2 separate regions of the Homo sapiens genome follow, and region 2 is linked to region 1. A link means that fine-mapping ties the variant in region 1 to the plasma level of a protein whose gene starts in the linked region. Region 1 holds a variant in brackets. A gene starts in the other region. All regions are shown on their forward strands.

Region 1 (10,295 bases):
TGTAATCCCAGCACTTTGGGAGGCCGAGGCAGGCAGATCACGAGGTCAGGAGATCGAGACCATCCTGGCTAACACGGTGAAACTCCGTCTCTACTAAAAATACAAAAAAAAAAAAAAATAGCCAGGCGTGGTGGTGGGTGCCTGTAGTCCCAGCTACTCAGGAGGCTGAGGCAGGAGAATGGCGTGAACCTGGGAGGCGGAGCTTGCAGTGAGCCGAGATGGCGCCACTGCACTCCAGCCTGGGTGACAGAGCGAGGTTCTGTCTCAAAAAAAAAAAAAAAAGAAAGAAACCAAAGTGTTGACAGTAGATGGTGAGTATTTTATGGTTTTCCCTCTCTTTATCTGAATTGTTAACAATTTCTTTAACAAACACGTATTCCTTGTGTCATCACATAGCAGTTAAGAGCTTGGGCTTCAGAGTTAGGCTGCCTGAGTTCAAATCCCAATTCCATCATGGGTTAGCTGAGACCTCTCTGAGCCGCAGTCTTCAGGTACAAGATGGAGAGAATAATAATAAAGCCAAGACGCTGGCTGGGTGGGTGTTGGAAGGCTCTAAGTGAGATGATACAACCCGTGTGCTCCCCCTGGCACAGTACCCCACAGTTATCCATTACTGTTACTGTTATCACCATGACTAATTACTGTTATAATTATTAATATAACCTTTGCAATTAGGAAGGTGAGAAGCCTTGGCCTCTGCCCATATCCTCTGGCCACCCAGAGTCCCCGAGAGCTGTCCCCACCAGCTCTTCCCTGCCAGGTTGGCGCTCGCTCTCAGACTTACTGTGAGGCCTTCAGCCCACACTTGCCAGAACTCCCGTGTTTTCTCCTCCGTGCCCTTTTCTGCAGAGAAGGCTTGGAAGAAACAGCCCAGCAAACACCAGTCTCCTGGCCCCAGAGCGAGACGTGGAAGTTTGCAGAAATGCATCACCAAATGTTTGATTTGGGAGGAGAGGAAGAGCAGAGCTCATACCGAGAGCAAAATAGGACAGAAAGGAGATTTTTCAGTAAGGGCTGAGGAGAGACCATCGTTCATCACTGGGGCCTCCTTGTTTCCTCACTTAGTTTCTTGACTTCAGTCCTGACCACCTCATTTGCTGTGGAACATCTGGCCCCAATATGGGGCTGATTTAATAAATCCAAGACATCTTCCTTTGCCCAGCAGACTTAGAAGAAGCCAAGGAGAAACCCTGTGGGGTTGCCAGCAAGGACCCATAGAGGCAAAGAGACAGACAGGAAAGAGGAGGATGGTGAATAACCAAGTGGGAACCGGGGCGCATCTGGCAGGTGAGCTGAGACCCATGTGTTCAGAAATCAAGATTATGGGCCAGACAGAGGCATGCCCATTGAAGCCAGCAGCAGCCTCCAGAAGCGACCACCTGCCCTTGGTTTCTATCCTTTCCTGTTGTTCCTCACTAGGCAGGAACTGGCTTTATGTAGGTCACAGATTTTCCAGATATGGGAGAACAGGATTTGGGACACCTTGTAGTTGTTACACACACACGCGCACGCGCGCACACATACACACGCCCCCTCCTCCCAGACTGGAGGGCAGAAGGGTCATGGAGCTTCAGCTAGAGTCCCTCCTCCTGTTGGTCTGGCCTGTAGGGATACTGTAGCCCCTCTGCCTGCGGATGTCTCATGACCCCAGACAAAGCAGAGTGACTGTGGCTGACGAGCATGTCGGAAGGGCTGACGGGAGCATCAGGTTGAAAATGAGAGAAAGAAGTGCATGAAAGAAGTTGTGATTCCTAGAAGTTCCCACTCCACCCACTTCCCACAACAACTCCACTACTCCAAATGAGAAATTAATTCCTTCAGGATCAGGGTTGCGAAGGAGGTGCCAAAACCTAAGAAAAAGGCTTTGTGTTTGCAGGGTGTGAACTTGGTTTAAGAGAAGCTAGCCATGACGCAGCTATGGGACGGGGTCCTGGACGTCTCAGCATTTCAGGAGAGTTAGCAAGGCTGCCCTGCGCGGGGGTGGGGTGGATCTCTTCTGTTACTGGTGTTGGAGATAGAACAGTGGTCAGGGACATTAATTGTGGCGATCGATTTTCCTTATTCTCACTTATGTATGTAGAAGAGATTCAATGAATGGTAAAGTCATTATACCCATTCCCCTACAGGGAGTAGAGAGAGACCAGCTTTCCTCATTCTGAACTCTGGCCCTCTACAGGGAAGAAAGAGTCCCCAAACTCAATACTAAACAAACCCAGTGGTTTTCAGCACCGGACACAAGTTAAAATCTCCCACTAGTTCTCACACTTTCCTGGGTATGCGACGCCCTGCTCCTGAAGGCCTTGTTAAAACACAGATCTCTGGACCCCACCCTAACAGCTTTGGATTCTGTTGTCAGGGTGGGGCCTGAGAGTTTGCACTTTAACAGGTGCCCTGGTGATGCTGATGCTGCTGGTCCCCGGGTCCAACTTTGAGAACCACCACCCCACCCCCGGTCCTCAGAGACTGATTTGGTTGGTTTGGAGTGGGGTTTCTTTGGCAGCTGTTGTTTAAAAGCACCCAGGGTATCCCAGAAGAGCCATGGTTCACACCATCAAGGCCAGTTATGGAGAATCTTCTACGAGAGCACATTATAAAAATAAGCACTTTCAGCAGGACGTGGACTCTAAAAAAAATAAATAACATAAAAGTAGAAATAAGCAGAAACATCCAGCTCTCAGTTAAGTACTTGCTAAGCTCCAGCTGCTTCAACCTCATCTAATTCCTGTTCCCTTTCCACATCCTGGTCTTAGCCCCTCTGCAGCTTTGCAGGAGCCGTCTCCACGTGGCCTGGCCTGGCTGAGCTCTGGGGCAGGAGCGCTTGGTGGCATCTCTTGGCTCTGAGTCTACAGTTTCCTTGACATCTTATTGCTCTGATTTTCTCTCAAGTGCCTCCCCTTCTTTCCTTTGTTCTGGGAGAAACATTCCCTCATCTTGTCTATGTGCAGAGATCCCCAATGACTTGCCTTCCTTACGACTGAGCAGATAGAAAGCGACTTGCCTTGGTCTGTGGAATAGCCGATATCCTATGACCCTTATCCCTCCGCCTGGCGAGACCCACATGGACATAAATCACAAGGATGCCAAGGCAAGACTGTGGACCCTGCCTCCAGCCGAGGCCTGGCAGAGGGGAGCTGTGGGCTTCCAGCCCCCTGTGGGAAGATTTACCAAACAAAGAGCAGATGCTTCAAACAATGACTTCATTGCAGACTGGGTCCCAGTACATTCAGGAAGGGAGTGGCCCATGGATGCTGGCCAATCCTACTCAGAGGAGCCTCAAAGAGAAACCAAGCAGGCAAGCCAGTGACCAAGCAGCCACGGTGAGGACTGGGGAGGAAGACATGCACATCTCACCTCTCCTGGGCCAGGCAATTATAGGCAATATCCTAATTAATCCTTATGACGGCCAGGCGCAGTGGCTCACGCCTGTAATCCCAGCACTTTGGGAGTCCAAGATGGGCAGATCAGGAGGTCAGGAGTTCGAGACCAGTCTGGTCAACATGGTGAAACCCCGTCTCTACTAAAAATATAAAACTTAGCCAGGCATGGTGGCAAGTGCCTGTAAGGAGAATTGCTTGAACCTGGGAGGCAGAGGTTGCAGTGAGCTGAGATCGTGCCACTGCACTCCAGCCTGGGCAACAGAGCAAGATCCCATCGCAAAAAAAAAAAATTAAAATTAAAAAAAATTAATCCTTATGATGCCACAGTAGACCTTGATCTGGAAGATGTGACTGCTGACCTATCCTGCCTCCTTGGGTCTGATACAAACAAGCCGAGTGGGAACTGGCAAAAGGGCACGGGTAAGCACTCATGTATGTGCATACAGGTGTGTGTGTGCCTGTGTGCATGTGTGTGTTGATTCCTACCCCTCAGTCTTCCCAGCCCCAGCGCACACAGATTCCATCTTCATTTTCTTAAATCTTCGTCTTTGCCCATAACCTCCCCCATGGAGCCTCCCAGCCTAATTGAAAAAAACAAAAAAAGAGAGAGAGAGAGAGAAATGTTGAACTGTTATATGATTCCCCTTATCTCAAATGGGAGGAAAATCGCTGGAAAGTTTTAAAGTCTAGGTGTCAATAGTCCTGTGAGTCATTTTACGACTGGGTTCGGGCAGCCCCGCAGCCAAGCCCTCTTGCCTCTCTGAATCTGTTTTACCATCTATAAAATGCAGTCAAGGGAGGTGGGGAGGGCTTCCAGTCAGGTTAGTTTCACATCCATGCTTTGAGGCCCTGTGGTCCCAGAAACAGCAATAAACGGGCAAAACATTAAAAGGGAAAATTTATTTTTTTAATTTTTTTAACGTATGTTTTTTGAGACAGAGTCTGACTCTGTGGCCCAGGCTGGAGTGCAGCGGTGTGATCTCGGCTCACTGCAACCTCTGCCTCTAAAAGGGAAAATTTAAAAGCACCCCGTCTATCAGAAAATAAAAGACACAGTCACACTCAAAATCATTTTAGACCTATTTGTGGTACAAAAATGGACCGAAACCCCAATGCTGTAAGGTGCCAGAGACCTGACCTCTTGGGGCTCTGGGTCAGCGTCAGCTGTCTAGGTTGGGTGCGGTGGCTCATGCCTGTAATCCCAGCACTTTGGGAGGCTAAGGTGGCAGGATCACTTGAGCCCAGGAGGTGGAGGCTGCAGTGAGTCATGATTGTATCATCTCACTCCAGCCTGGACGACAAAGCGAGAACCTGTCT[CAA/C]AAAAAAAAAAAAAAAGAAGAAGAAAAAGAAAGGTGTTTCTTTATTGTCTTATCGTCTTTCCTGGCATCTCTTACAGCTAGGTGTACCTATGTGACTAATGTCCAACCAATGGAAAGTAAGTGGAAGCGTTAGGTGCGATTTCATAAAGGGAGAGTGGTACTCTTTTTTGCTTCTTCCACCTCATGACAGCTCAAATGCAGACATAATGGCAAGACTCAAGCCGCCATATTGGAGTGTGGGGTAAAAGCCACTCACTGAGGACAGCAGAACTGGATAGACGTCTCCTGAGTCCTTGATAATTATGGAGGCACCACGCTAGCCTTGGACAGCCTATCTCTGGAATGTGTGTGAAGTTTGTGTTTCATAATGTTGCTGTAATTTTGGGTGCTCTATTACTCAAGAGTGAATCTAATCCTCGCTAAATCAGAGGTGTCACACGTCGTGCCACTACTCATTAATTTGGGGCATTAGATTTACTTTCAAATTGTTGTTATTCTAAATAGCATAACATGAACCTCTTTATGTAAAAAACTCAATCTGCATCTCTGGGGTTTTTTTTTCTCGTACTCTATTATCTTCCTAGGATACATTTCTGTTAACAGAATTTTAGCATCAAAGAATATCTAGGCTGGGTGTGGTGGCTCACGCCTGTGATCCCAGCACTTTGGGAGGCCAAGGCGGGTGGATCACCTGAAGTCAGGAGTTCGAGACCAGCATGGCCAACATGGTGAAACCCCGTCTCTACTAATAATACAAAAATTAGCCCGGTGTGATGGTAAATGCCTGTAATCCCAGCTACTTGGGAAGCTGAGACATGAGAATCACTTAAACCCAGGAGGCAGAGGCTGCAATGAGCCGAGATCGCGCCACTGCACTCCACCCTGGGCGACACAGTGAGACTCTGTCTCAAAACAACAACAACAAAAATCTACATTTTAGTATCTCTCAATTCATGCTGCCAACTAATGTTCTTTTTGTTGTTGTTTTTGTTTTTAAAAAATAATAGACATGGGGTCTCCCTATGTTGCCCAGGCTGGTCTCTAACTCCTGGGCTCAAGCAGTCCTCCCACCTGAACCTCCCAAAGTACTGAGATTACAGGCCTGAGCCACTATCCCAGCCTACCAACCAATGTTCTGAAATGGTTGTACAAATGACATTCCTGCCAGTTGCATATTTGAATGCCTATTTCACAGTTCCTGCACTAGTACAGGAGGCAAGGGAGTATACGCTTTCTGTCCCCCAGCCATGCCCTTTGAACCACTCTGGACTTGAGCTGCAGCTGGGCAGTCTCTCCTGTCCCCACTCACAGCTTCCCCCTCTCAGGTGCCAGTAACATCTCCCAATTTCCTGACCCCAGACTTTCTCCAAAGCTCCAGAAGCTTACTCAGCTCTCATGCAGGTGAAGTGTGGCAAGGAGTTAGTGCCCCAAGGAGACGAGAGATGCTGAAACACACCTGGGTGTTTTTTATTTGTTTGTATTGGTTTTTTTCCCTTTTATTTTCAATTGACATATAATAATTGTATATATTTATGGGATACAGAGTGGTGTTTTGATAAGTGTTGGTTTTGGTAGTGATTTATAAAAGAGGAATAACTGAGTCAACTGGAGCTATTTTTGAGGATAGAGGTGAGGACCAGATAATAACAAAATAACAATAGCAATTATTTGTTTAACACCTACTCTGTACCAGATACTGTTTCGCTGTTGACGTAAAACAATCTTGGCCAGGCGTGGTGGCTCACGTCTGTAATCCCAGCACTTTGGGAGGCTGAGGTGGGCGGATCACCTAAGGTCAGGAGTTCAGCCTGGCCAACATGGTGAAACCCCGTCTCTACTAAAATACAAAAATTAGCCCAACCTGGTGGTGCTCACCTGTAATCCCAGCTACTCGGGAGGCTGAGGCAGGAGAATCACTTGAACCCGGGAGGCAGAGGTTGCAGTGAGCCGAGATTGCGTCATTGTATTCCAGCCTGTGCAACAGAGCGGGACTCCTTCTCAAAAAAAGCAAAACAAAACAGAAACTAAACAAAAATAAAACAATCTCTCAGCAACTCTGCAAACTAGATTATTTTATTATTCCCACTTTGCAGATGAGGAAACCAGGGCTTGGAGGTGTAAAGTAACTTGCTCAAGGTCTTGAAGTTATGAGGCTGAAGCAATACGGCTTGAACAAAGACTGAGCCCCACCTCGTCTGAGGTGGCGGAATATGAGGAACATGGTCTTAGGAGGGAGGAAAGAGTGGATGATCCGAAATGAATCCCAGTTTCCCCTACAAAATATGAGGGTCATGTGCAGGGAACCCTGACCAGTCCTCCTGTGAGTGTGTGTGTGTGTGTGTGTGTGTGTGTGTGTGTGTATTAGGATGGATGGGACAAAGTGATACATTACAAAAAGCCGGGAGAAGGAGCTTGGTCCAATGCTAACCGGCGCCATGGGAGTGAGGCTCCTATCTTCCTACAGAGAGTGGGAGCAGGGGCCCTATCTTCGGGGCTTGGCTGGAACAAACAGTTCTGGCGGCAGCCTTGTGTTTGTTCTCTCGGGCAGGCAGCTTAAGGGGAGGCAGGGTCATCCTGGACTGCGGCCTTGAGCTGTTGCAAACACTGCCTCACCTCCCGCCTCACCCCACGCAGTGCTGGAACTCTGGGCAGGGGGACAATGGTGGGTCTGTGAGGGTGTCAGGTTGTCAGGAACAAGGCTGGTGGCTTTGAGCAAGTTGTGCAACCCCTTCCAGCCCCAGGTACTCATCCTTCCAGTGGAGGATGTCACGGCTGCCTTCACAGGAGATGGAAAGATCAGCCCCTCTCCCAGCTTCTTGTGGTTCATTTGCCTGACTCTCCTGAGCCTCCGCTCAACTCCTCCCCATTTCCTTCTTCTCCCAGTTTTTTTGTTTTTGTTTTTTTTGTTTTGGGGGTTTTTTGTGATGGAGTCTCACTCTGTCGCCCAGGCTGAAGTGTAGTGGCGCAATCTCGGCTCATTGCAGCCTCCGCCTCCCGAGTTCAAGCAATTCTCGGGCGTCAGCCTCCCAAGCAGCTGGAAATAGAGGTGCCCACCACCACACCTGGCTAACTTTTTTTTTAATCTGAAAAGCCAGTAAAAATGCTGAGAGGTCCCTCTGCTACCAAGGTATGTGGGCACGTGGAAGGGGTCAGCTGCCTTGTCCAGATGCTGAGGGGCTGGTAGAGAGAAACATCAGCAGATGGGAGGGCTGCTACTGTCCCACAGAGAAGGGCCAGCTTGAAGCCATGGGCTTAGGGACCCAATGTTTGGGCTGACTGTTGTTAAGAACACAGTTTTGACGTTCCCCTGAGCTGAGTTCCCGTCCCGGCTCACAGTGCTTCCCTGGCTGGGCAACCTGGGGCTTGTGATTGTCCCTTTCACAGCCTCAGTTTTCTCAGCCCTGAACGTTGTGAATGTTGTGAGATTTGAATGAGATAATGCAGACAGAGCTTAAAAAGAGGCCGGATGCAGCAGCTCGCACCTGTAATCCCAGCACTTTGGGAGGCCGAGGCAGGAGGATCATTTGAGGACAGGAGCTGGAGACTAACCTGGGCAACCTAGCGAGATCCCATTTCTATGGAAAATTTAAAAATTAGCCCGGCGTGGTGGCATATGCCTGTAGTCCCAGCTACTTAGGAGGCTGAATCGGGAGGATCACTTGAGCCCAGAACATCGAGGCTGCAGTGAGCTGAGATGTAGCCACTGCACTCCAGCCTGGGCAACAGAGTGGTACCTTGACTCCAAAAAAAGGCGGACAGGAGGGCTTAGAAAAGAGCTTGGCATGTAGAAAGCCCTCCAAATGTTAATTTATAATTATGGCAGGGATGAATTTCAAAATCATAAAGTGCTCACAGACAACAAGCTGCCTTGTCCACAGAGATGGCTGCAATTCCTCTGGAATACTGGGGGAGGGTGAACAGTGATGACTAAATCCCCCTCCTCTCAGGCCCCAGGACTCCAGGGCAGCACTCTTCTTAGCCCTGGGTGTGTGGGGGGGTAAAGCATGGGACCCTCCTTCCAGTCCCCACTGCCAGCCTCCCTGGCCCCCCAACACCCTGTCCTGCTCTGTGCCAGGAGGCTGCTCACAACCCCCGGAGCACCTTATTCCTGTGACTGGGCCGAAAGACGAGGCTGGGCGCAAGCCCGGAGCCCAGTGATGTGTCACACGTGAATCTGTCACATGTGAAGACACAGAAACAGCCCCTTGGCTGTTACTAAAGGGAAAAGAGGCCAGCAAGGTGACTCACACCTGTAATTCCAGTGTCAGAGGCATGTGAACCAGAGCAGCTCCATCTTGAATAGAAGCTGGGTAAAATGAGGCTGAAACCCACTGGGCTGCATTTCCGGATAGTTAAGACATTCTAAGTCACAGGATGAGACAGGAGGTCAGCACAAAATGCTGGTCATAAAGACCTAGCTGATGAAACAGCTTGCAGTAAAGAAGCCACTAAATCCTACCAAAACCAAGATGGTGACGAGAGTGACCTCTGGTCATCCTCACTGCTACACTCCCACCAGCGCCATGACAGTTTACAGATGCCATGGCAACATCAGGAAGTTACCCTATATGGTCTAAAAAGGGGAGGCATGAATAATCCACCCCTTTTTTTTTTAGCATATCATCAATAAATAACCATAAAAATGGGCAAACAGCAGTTCTCAGGGCTGCTCTGTCTATGGAGTAGCCATTCTTTTATTCCTTTACTTTCTTAATAAACCTGCTTTCACTGCACCGCAGACTTGCCCTGAATTCTTTCTTGCACGAGATCCAAGAACCCTCTCTTGGGACATGGGGTGGGGACCCCTTTCCTGTAACATTGGCACTTTGGGAGGTCAAAGTAGAAGGATAGTTGGAGCCCAGGAGTTTGAGACCAGCCCTAGCAACATAGCAAGACCCCATTTCTACAAAGAAATTAAAAAATGTATTAGCTGGGAGTGGTGGCATGAACCTGTAGTCCCAGGTACCCAGGAGGCTGAGGCAGGAGGATCGCTTGAGCCCAGAAGGGCGAGGATGCAGTGATCTGTGATCGTGCCACTGCACTCCAGCCTGGATGACAGACCTGTCTCAAAAAAATAATAATAAAAAGAAAAAGGAAAGAAAAGAAATGCTCCTTTTCCAAACCTTTCCCCTGAAGAGAGCCTAGCCTTAGACTCTGGCCCGTTCCCTCCCAGGCACTCCAGACTCTTGTGTCATGGGATGACCCCCCCCCCCACACACACACACACCAGCCCTGTGTCTCTCCCTGGGTGCTTTTCATCCCCGTATTAATTCTCCAACCTTTGTTGGTGAATCCTCCCCACTCCCCGCATATGATCTCTCACATGGGGCTTTAACTGATTTTAAAAAATAACATGAACAAACAGTGAAACTAAAAGCACAGCTATGTTGAAGCCTGGTCCTCTAACCTAGTTTCAAATAATAATAATGATAATGATAAATACAGCTATTATTTATTGTGCTTTGTTGGAAGGACATTAGACAATAATTCAACATTCACAAAAATCCTGGGGTAGGTATCATGATCACCTGCATTTTACAGATAGGAAACTGAGTCATGGAGACATTAAGCCACTTGCCCAAGATCACACAGATCAAGG
Region 2 (10,295 bases), not on the chromosome of region 1:
GGTGAGGTTGCATGTGAGCCACCTGTGCTGTTAGTGTGGCTGGGGTGTGGCTGGGGTGTGACTGTGTGTGTCAGTGGTTGTTGGTGGCATTGTGTGTGACTTACCCATGTGTCACCTTGGGCATGTTCAGAGGCACTTTGGAGGCACTGTCCACCCCTGAGACCCAGCTCTCTTGGAGGGTCCAGCCTCCCTCCCCACCTCTGCTCTGGTCTGCCAGTACCATCCCCCACCCCTCCCCCACTGGCAGCAGCCCCTGGCCCAGGGCCCCAGTGGGGTGGTGGGGACAGAGAAGGCACTCAGGGCTGGGGAGGGGTGCCCAATCCCAGCTCAGGCCTATAAATAGCTCTTTGAGCCCAGTAGATTCCCAGGCAAGGTTGCCTCATTCAAGCCCCCGGCAACAGCCCGCCCCTGGGCCCCAGGCCAGCCCCTCTAAGCTCAGCCCTGGCACCAGCGAGGAGCCGGGGGGTGGGGGCAAGGGGTGGGGAGGAGTGGAGAAGCGGGGGAAGCAGAAGGATGAGGATAGGTGGGGTTGGGGCTCAGCTCTGCGCCCACAGACCTTGGCTTCCACCTGGTCTCTACTCACTCTGTACATCCTCGGGCAGGTGATCCTAGCTCCTTAAGCCTCAGTTTCCCCAGCACCTGTAAAATAAACAGCAGTCCCTGCCTGTGTGTTTACTTCCCATTTCATTCTCCAAGCAACCGGTAACGTAGGGACATTCATTATCCCCCATTTTATTTATTTATTTATTTAATTTTTTCCCAAGATGGAATCTCACTCAGTCACCCAGGCTGGAATGCAGTGGTGCCATCTTGGCTCACTGCAACCTCCACCTCCTGGGTTCAAGCGATTGTCCTACCTCAGCCTCCTGAGTAGCTGGGATTACAGGTGTGCACCACCCCACCCAGCTAATTTTGAATTTTAGTAGAGACGGGATTTCACCATGTTGGCCAGGCTGGTCTCAAATTCTGACCTCATGATCCATCTGCCTTGGCCTCCCAAAGTGCTGAGATTACAGCCTTGAGCCACCGCGCCCACCCTCCCCCCATTTTATTTTATTCATTTTTGAAATAGGGTCTCACTGTGTCACCCAGACCAGAGTACAGTGATGCAATCTTGACTCACTGCAGCTTTAATCTCCTGGGCTCCAGCGATCCTTCCCCCTCAGCCTCCCGAGTAGCCGGGACCACAGATGTGTGCCACCATGTCCTGCTAACTTTTAAGTTATTTTTTGTAGAGATGGGGGTCTCACTGTGTTGCTCAGGCTGGTCTTGAACTCCTGGGCTCAAGTGATCCTCCTGCCTCTGACTCCCAAAGTGCTGGGATTACAGGCATGAGCCACCGGCACCTGGACTATCCCCATTTCAGATGGGGAAACTGAGACACAGAAAGATGAGATGGCTCACTCAGAGTCACATTGTTACGAATGGCAGGGAGGGGGTTTGAACCCCAGACTTGTGGAGGCTGAGCTACTCGGTTCTCACGCACGTCACGCAGCTGTTCTCAGCGTCTTTCCCAGTGTGAGCCACAGCCAACCCCCCAGCACGCTCCAGCCTCACCGACTAGTCATTGCATGCTGTTTGGGTGCTGCTGACACAGCTGTCACCTGCAGACACTCACATCAGCTGGGATCCTTGACCTCCATCTCTCCTCTGTGACACAGAGTCAAACAGTCAGTGCAGCTTCCCGCTGTATCATCTTGGACCCCAGGGCTACCCCTTGCTCACCTGGGGTCCCCCCTTATCCCTCATTCATTCCTACCCTTTCTTTGATAATCTTTTTTTTTTTTTTTGAGATGGAATCTTGCTCTGACACCCAGGCTGGAGTGCAGTGGCACAGTCTCGGTTCACTGCACGCTCCGCCTCCCAGGTTCAAGTGATTCTCCTGCCTCAGCCTCCTGAGTATCTGGGATTATAGGTGAACACCACCATGCCTGGCTAATTTTTGTATTTTTAGTACAGACAGGGTTTCACCATGTTGGCTGGGCTGGGCTGGTCTCAAACTCCTGACCTTAGGTGATCTGCCTGCTTCAGCCTCCCAAAGTGTTGGGATTACAGGCATGAGCCACGGTGCTTGGCCTCCTTTCTTCTTCTTTTTTCTTTTTTTGATGGAGTCTCACTCTGTTGCCCAGGCTGGAATGCAGTGGCCCAATTTCGGCTCACTGCAACTTGCGCCTCCAGGGTTCAAGCGATTCTCCTGCCTCAGCCTCCCGAGTAGCTGGGATTACAGGCGTCCGCCACCACACCCTAATTTTGATTTATTAGAGATGGGGTTTCACCATGTTGGCTAGGCTGGTCTCGAACTCCTGACCTCAAATGATCTGTCCTCTTGGCCTCCCAAAGCGCTGGGATTATGGGCGTGAGCCACGGCACCTGGCCAAGGCCTCCTTTCTTTGATAACCTTGTGGAAGCTATCTTGTCCCTCATTTGCCTATCCTCCTACCAGATGGACACGCACCCTCAGAGATGCTAAACACACACTCACAGATATAGGACCCAGGGTGGAGCGCTGCGAGCCCATTCTCAGCACAGAAACACCACGACCATAGGAAGGAAGGCAGGGGCAAAGCCTGCCCTCTCTGGGCACATTTCCCTCCTCATGGCTTTTTTTTTTTTTTTTTTTTTTTTGAGACGGAGTCTCACTCTGTCACTCAGGCTGGAGTGCAATGGCATGGTCTCAGCTCACTGCAACCTCTGCCTCCTGGGTTCAAGCGATTCTCCTGCCTCAGCCTCCTGAGCAGCTGGGATTACAGGTGTCTGCCAACACGCCTGGCTAATTTTTGTATTTTTAATAGGGAAAGGGTTTCACCATGTTGGCCAGGCTGGTCTTAAACTCCTGACCTCAGGTGATCCACCCGCCTTGGCCTCCCAAAGTGCTGGGATTACAGGTGTGAGCCACCGAACCCAGCCCTCATTACCATATTTTTAATGGTGGTCAAATACAGATAACATAAAACTCACCATCTTAAAATGTGTAATTCAAGGCCATGCGCGGTGGCTCATGCCTGTAATCCCAGCATTTTGGGATGCTGAGGCGGGCGGATCATTTGAGGCCAGGAGATCGAGACCAGCCTAGCTGACATGGTGAAACCACATCTCTACTAAAAATACAAAAATTAACTGGGTGTGGTGGCAGGTGCCTGTAATCCCAGCTATTCAGGAGGCTGAGGCAGGAGAATCGCTTGAACCTGGGAGGTGGAGGTTGCAGTGAGCCAACATCGTGCCACTGTACTCCAGCCTGGATGACGGAGCAAGACTCCGTCTGAAAAAAAAAAAAAAAGATTGGGGTCTCATGTCTCATGGCAGGGACATGCCTATGCCTCTGCATAAAGCAAAATTATTCATGTGTCAACAGCAGTACCCAGTCCATAGAGTGTGCTACATAAATGCTGATCAGACAAAGGTGAATGAATGAATGATACAATCTGGCTGTAGTTGCTGGAAACAGCTCGGGGGTGTCACACACCTGGACTCCCACCCTGCGTGCCTCTTACCAGCTGTGTGAACAAGGAGTCTCCCCGTCTCGTCCGTGCCTCAGTTTCCTCTCTGTAAATGGGGTAAACCAGTAATTGTAGCCAAAACTGCTTTGAACGTGAGTCCTGGAGAATCAGGCAGGGCGAGGTTCGAATCCCAGCTCTGCCTCTGTGCGTGACCTTGGGAAGCGACTTTGCCTCCTTGGGGCTCAGTTTCCCCACCTGTAAAATGGGACGGCCTCATCCTGGGGCATAATGGGGACGTTTAACGCGGTTCCTGGGGCAAAGAGAATGGGAGGAGAATCGATGCCATCTTCTCCTGGGTGCGGTGAGTGTCCAAAAAATGGGCGGGGTGGGGATTTTAGGCAGGGGAGCCCCCTCCCTCGCGCAGCCAGAGGCCTCGGGCTGGCGGGGGCGCATGCGCAGAGAGCCCTCGCGGCCCCTTTATAAGCACTGAGGCGGCGCTGGGGCCAGCGGAGCGCAGGGCGCAGGGGCTGGACCCGGCGCGGAGCTGGCTGAGTCGGAGCGCAGCGTCCTTTGTGCCCGGCGGCCGCCCCGGGATGCGTCCGAGCTAGGAGCCAGGTGGGGGATCCGTGAGGGGGCCGTGTTGCGGGAGAAGACTTCGGGATTAGAGACAGAGCTCAGGATTAGGGAGAGGACCTGAGACCAGGGAGAAGTCCCCAGAATGGGGAGGGGGCTGAAGCGGGGGAGGGGAGCCCTAGGTTGAGGAGGGAGCGCGAACTGGGAGGGGGCTTGGGAATGCTAGGTGAACAGACATTTGGGGAGGAAGGTTGTCCGCGGAATCCGGAGACTACCCCCCGGTGGGGAGGGGGCCGGGCTGGGGGTGGGTCTCAGGGTTGAGGAGGGAGCAATGGGAAACAGGGCTAGGGGAGGGGCCCCCCGAGTTTGGAGGGAAGAAGAGGACACCCAGATGCCGAATGGGGGACTCTGGAACAGGGCACCCCCGTATCTCAGCCGAGACACCCCAGGATTTTAAGTAGGGATTCCCAATTTGCGGTTGAATGGAGGATTCCGGGCCGGACTGCAGTGGGGAGGGGGCCCCCAGATCACCCTGTGCCCAATGGAAGGGTATCTGCGCTGAGAGCGAACGGCCATGGGGAAGGGGCTCCCTGCCATCTCCCTGTCCTTTTGGGTCAGGTCCGGTCACCACGTTCTGACTCAGGGAGGAGGTCCTGGGGGTCCCCATCCCAACGTGGTTCCCCGTTATTCCCTTAGACCTTGGGTTGAGGTGTTGTCCCTTATCCCAGGGAACACACTGGGTGTCCCAGGTGAATGTTGGGTGGGGGTCCCCTAGACCCCCCAGCTATGGATCCCCAGGACCTGTGAGGGATACCAGCTCAGAGGGGGGGCTGTCCCCCAGCACCTTCACAGCCTCCCACGTCCTTACAGCATGACACAGACCCCTACCCCCACCCCCTTTAGTTCCACCTGTCCATATGGACACATGTGGAAGCGCTGGCTTGGTTTGGGGGCACAGGGGCTGGGAAGTAAGGGGCTGGGAAGTAAGGGCCCTGTCTGGGCAGGAGAGACCCCCATCCCTACGCGTGGGGCTTTGTTCCTCTCAGGCAGCATCAATGAGAAACAGCCAGGCCAGGGAGAGGGTTGGCTCTGGGCCCCAGCGGGGGACGTGGGGGCAGGGCAGGCAGGAAGGGGTGGGTGCACTGTGGGACCCCAGAACCCAGCCGTCGCAATAGCTGATGGACATTCTGAAATCAAGTTCCCCCTCAAGGATATGGGGGTTTTGTGTGTGTGTCCACCCCAGACAGGCAGGGAGGGGGAGTATGCCCAGGGGTTCTAGGGTCCCCTGTGAGTCTGATGTGACTGTGGTTGTGTCTTTGTCAGAAAACTTGTGCCGAGGGCCACATCACCATGTGGCAAAATGATGGGTGTCCATCGGTCACCAAGGCCACAATTATCCATCTCGGTTTGTGCCAGGGGCTGGCATCGCCGTGTGAGTGAGGAGCTATGTCTGATGCTGTTCCGTTCATCAAGGGGTTTATGTGGGGGGGGGGGGGCCCGAGACTGTGGGTGTGTGTCTTTGTGCAGAAGACACGCCGCCTGTCTTGTAAGTGCCCATATTGTCTCTCTTTGTTAATGTCACTGTGAATCTGTGTGAGTGTGTGTTTCCCCAGGGTCTGTGTCTGGGGTGCGTGGCTGTGTGTGTCCCGCTTGTGTATCTGGAGGGGCCAAGGGTTCTTTCCATGCGGTTGGCAGTGTGCACCCTTGGCACGGGGGTGTGGGACGTGGTCTGTGTTCAGAGTTGGGGCGCTAACAGGGAAAGCTTGAGCAGGGGTTGAAATCCCCAAGGGGAAGCCCGGGATGATGACTGAGCCCATCTCCCTTTCTCCTCCACGGAGTTCCACATTCACACCCATGCACACTAATACACCCTGACTCTCAGGTCAGAAACACACACATGTGCGCACAGCCCCCTGCTGAGGGTCACTCAGACTCACACACATCCACAGATCACACTAGGTCCCATGTGCTCCACCCGGTGCACGGAGCTGCTGCAGGCTCACACACACAACATGCACCCACCACATGGCACAACCGCCTTCACACCCTTGCCAGGACACAACACCCCGGACACACACCCAGTCACAAACACTCACAAATGCCCATTGGCAAACTCACCTTCACTCAGTGCTAACGGAGACTTGAGGTGGGGGTGAAGTGAAGGAGGGGACACACACACACTTACACACACACACTCACACACACTCTCTCACACACACACATTCACATGGATCCGAGCTGCCCCTCCTCCAGCACCCCGCAGGCCCCTGCTTGCATATGCATGAGGCTTGTACATTATTCATGAGGGCACGGGCCCCAGACAGCTGTGTAAATGCTCATCTCTGGCCGCCCTGGGGAGGAGGTATTTTAAGAGAAGGGTGTGGGTGTGTGAGGGTGCGAGTGGAAGGGAGTGGGAGGGTGTGTGTGGGGGGTGTGCACCTGAAACTGTGTCTGTCACCATGTTGGGCAACCTCAGTATATTTTTAGCGTATACATGAGGCTTTGTGTCTAAAGAGCTGTTTTTAAATTTAACATTTCTAGGACTTTGCAAGTCTTAGGTCATTTCATCCTCACAGTAGCTGCAGGTGGTACTTGCTGGATAATCTCCATTTTACAGGTGGGGAAACTGAGGCACAGAGAGATTGAAGCAGCTTGTCCCGGATTAGAAGCAGAGCTATCTGGATGTAGTCTGACCTGTTAACGGGGTGTGTGTGTGTGTGTGTGTGTGTGTGTGTGTGTGTGAGAGAGAGAGAGAAAGAGAATTCTCTGGCCTTGTCCTCTCGTAAGGCCCTGCTGGGGGCAGGTGCAACCCGGAGTCCTGTCTCTCTCTAATACCTGGCCAGGCCTGGAACAGCCATGAGGGGACCCCACACTTGCTCAGGGTTCCAAGGGGAAGAAATGAGAACAGCCTGGTGAAGGCAGAGGTTGCTGAGGTTTACAAGTTGGTAGTTGGGAGCACTGGTCCAGGGTCTGGCTTTGACCTCTACCCTGCTGTGCAGCCTGAGGCAAACCTCTAGCCCTCTCTGGTCCCTGAGGCATCGTGTTAGCAGGCAGGAGGCAGGGGTGGACTAGGTGGGCTTTGCCGCTGCGTTGCCGCCTCAGAGTTCAGCACCACGGACAGGTCCCAGGCCGGCCTCCCAGCAGGGGACTCTGGGAGCTGGGAAGGAGAACTGGGGAAAGGGACAGCTGTCACATACAGCCTCCCCTTCTGGACTCCGTTCACACCCCTTCCTCAGGGATAATTTCTTATGGGGGCGGGGAGCAAGGATTGGGTTTGCAGATGATGTTCTAATTTTCCATCTGCGCCCACCTCCTGAGCCCTGGTGACCGGGGTTCGCAGGAGTGGGAGGTTTTGGGGAGGGACCACCTCCCCAGGATTCCTAGTCTCTGGAACAATGTGAAGTCAGGAAATGCACTGCTGTGTCCCAACGACTGGCATGGGCTTTGCTCACAGTAGGCGCTTAATAATTGTCCACTTTATCCCTATGGGTCCTAGCCCCTATAGGGAAATGGACCCACAACTGAAGTTTCTCTGTGGGCCTAAGAAGTATCTTTGTTGAGCTGTGTGAAGTCAGGAGGAGGATGGGTGGGCAGGGGTGAGCCCCTTCCTCCAGCTGGGAGTTGGCGGCTCCTCCAAAATCCCAGAAACCAAGAATAGAATCTTGGTGACAACCAAATCCTGGAATTGAAGCTGCGAATCGTGTCAGCCAGCAAACCCAGATTAAAGGATGGCTTAGAGGCCAGCCTGCTGCCTGGACTGAGGATGCTGGGAGGACTGGGACAGACTGCTGCCCTCTAGGAGCCGCCAGTCTGATGGAGGAGGCTGACTTGAAAAATGGTATTTCAGTCTTGGCTGTGTTAAGGTCGGTAATAATAATAGCAGCAGCTAAAATGTACCCCTTACTGCATGAGACAGTTCTAAGCATTTTATATGTATTGACTCATCCATTCCTTTCAACTACCTGATGTTATCCCCATCTGACCCACAAAGAAAGTAAGGCACAGAGAAGGTAAGCAACTTGCCCAAGATCACACAAAAGGAACAGTGAGCCAATTCCAGATTTGATTCACTACCAGCACCCAGGCTTCTGACCACAGACTTCATTGCTTGGATTGTTTTTTGTTGTTGTGTTGTGTTTTGTTTTGTTTTCAGTCTCGCGCTGTCACCCAGGCTGGAGTGTGGTGGTGGAATCATAGCTCACTGCAGCCTTGAACTCCTGGGCTCAAGCAATCCTCCCACCTCAGCCTCCTGCATAGCTGGGACCACAGGTGTGCGCCACCAAGCCCAGATAATTTTTTTTTTTTTTGAGACAGAGTCTCACCCTGTCGCCCAGGCTGGAGTGCAGTGGCGTGATCTCGGCTCACTGCAACCTCCACCTCCCGGGTTCAAGTAATTCTCCTGCCTCAGCCTCCTGAGTAGCTGGGATTACAGGCGCCTGCCACCACGCCCAGCTAATTTTTGTATTTTTAGTAGAGACGGGGTTTCACCATGTTGGTAAGGCTGGTCTCGAACCCCTGACCTCGTGATCCACCCTCCTCGGCCTCCCAAAGTGCTAGGATTACAGGCGTGAGCCACCACGCCTGGCTGCTAATTTTTTAAATAGAGGTAAGATCTCACTATGTTGCCCAGGCTGGTCTCAAGCTTCTGGCCTCAAGCAGTCCTCCCACCTCAGCCTCCCAAAGTGCTGGAACTATAGGCGTGAGCCACCGCGTCCAGCCACTGCTATTCTGAGGTCAAGTGGCCCTGGGTTCGAATTCTGGCTCAGCCCTTTGCTGGCTCCTTCTGTGACCTAGAATAACACACTGGTCTCTCTGAGCCCTGGTTTCCTGATCTGTAGAGTGGGGGAGTTTGGTCCTGCAATGCTGAATATCTGGGAGGGTTGGGCTGTGGCTCACCCCTCCCTCCCTCTCCATTTTGTTCCAGATCCAGGATGGGGGCCCCGTTTGTCTGGGCCTTGGGCCTTTTGATGCTGCAGATGCTGCTCTTTGTGGCTGGGGAACAGGGTGAGTTGGTTTGTGGGGAGGGAGAGATTGGGGTCTAGGGGATGGACAAGATGGGGCAGCTTTTGAATTCCAGAGCCTTCTCCTGCTGGTCTCCTGGCATGGGCTAGAGAATAAAATGAGAATAGATTTTAAAAGGTCTTTGAACAGTCAAAAGCGAACAGGATACCTAAGAGGTTATTTTTAGTCATTGTCAGCAGAAGCTGGAGATTCCCGCCTCTCATCGTTTTGCTCAGATGAACTGGAGAGAAAGAAAGAAAGAAATGAGAATAGTGCAGAGATTGATTAGTGATGTCTGCCAAGGGTGGAGCGATGGAAATAAAGGTCTGTGTCCCTCTACTGGTGGTCAAGAGCCCAGGTTTTAGAAATCCCTCACAGATTTGGTCTGTGACCTTAGGCAAGTATAATTATCTCTCTGAACTTCAGTTTCCTCAACTCCCCCCAAAGAGAATGAGACATTGCTACTCTGCAGATGGTTATGAAAATCAAATGAGCTGATTGCTATAAAGTGCCTGTTACAAAGATGGTACTCTGCAAACACCATTTCCTTTTCATTAGCTGTCTTTTGCTTTACCTTTCGGAAAAACTGGGGCTCAGGGAAGGAAAATGCCTCTCCCAGGGCCATACAGTGAATCAGTGGCACTGGAGTGAAATCCCTGTCCTTATAAAAATAAAGTGAGGGGCTAGGCACAGTGGTTTATGCCTATAATTCTAGCACTTTGGGAGGCTGAGGCAGGCAGATCACTTGAGGTCAGGGGTTCCAGGCTAGCCTGCCTAACATGGTGAAACTCCGTCTCTACAGAAAATACAAAAATTAGCCAGGTGTGGTGGCACATGCCTGTAATCCCATCTTCTCGGGAGGCTGAGGCATGAGAATCGCTTGAACCTGGGAGGCGAAGGTTGCAGTGAGCCGAGATCATGCCACTCCACTCCAGCCTGGGTGACAGAGTCAGACTCAAAAAAATAATAATAAGGCTGGGTGTAGTGGCTCACCCCTATAATCCCAGAACTGTGGGAGGCCAAGGTAGGTGGATCAGTTGAGGTCAGGAATTGGAGACCAGCCTGGCCAACATGGTGAAACCCATCTCTACTAAAAATGCAAAAATTAGCCAGGCGTGGTGGCACACACCTGTAATCCCAGCTACTGGGGAGGCTGAGGCAGGAGAATTGCTTGAACTTAGGAGGCAGAGGTTGCAGTGAGCTGAGATCATGCCACTGCACTCCAGCCTGGGAGATGGAGCGAGACTCCATCTCAAAAGTATAAATAAATAAAAGAATAATAAT

Which allele goes with the higher level. Alleles are on the strand shown, and positions count from the first base shown. The strength of an association depends on the size of the effect and on how common the allele is.
With allele CAA in place of C in region 1, the plasma level of the protein whose gene starts at base 3,946 in region 2 is lower (weak association).

The links. PIP is the chance, under the fine-mapping model, that this variant and not a neighbour inherited with it causes the effect. The UK Biobank Pharma Proteomics Project read protein levels with antibody pairs (Olink). The fine-mapping took linkage between variants from a reference panel, not from the people measured, so its PIPs are less certain.
Region 2: NCAN starts here. The variant in region 1 is fine-mapped to the plasma level of the NCAN protein (UK Biobank, PIP above 0.99).

What each region holds. Positions count from the first base shown.
Region 1 is chr10:72,023,687-72,033,981 of GRCh38, forward strand. It overlaps LOC124902448 (a long non-coding RNA gene), which reads left to right and starts at 3,625. Exons shown (of 2, transcript XR_007062187.1): 1 at 3,625-3,797; 2 at 4,774-5,233. The variant CAA/C (reference allele first, on the strand shown) is at 4,695.
Region 2 is chr19:19,208,013-19,218,307 of GRCh38, forward strand. NCAN (neurocan) reads left to right here and starts at 3,946. Exons shown (of 15, transcript NM_004386.3): 1 at 3,946-4,052; 2 at 8,935-9,014. The coding sequence starts at 8,942. RefSeq lists enhancers at 3,748-4,042, 5,595-6,095, 6,096-6,596.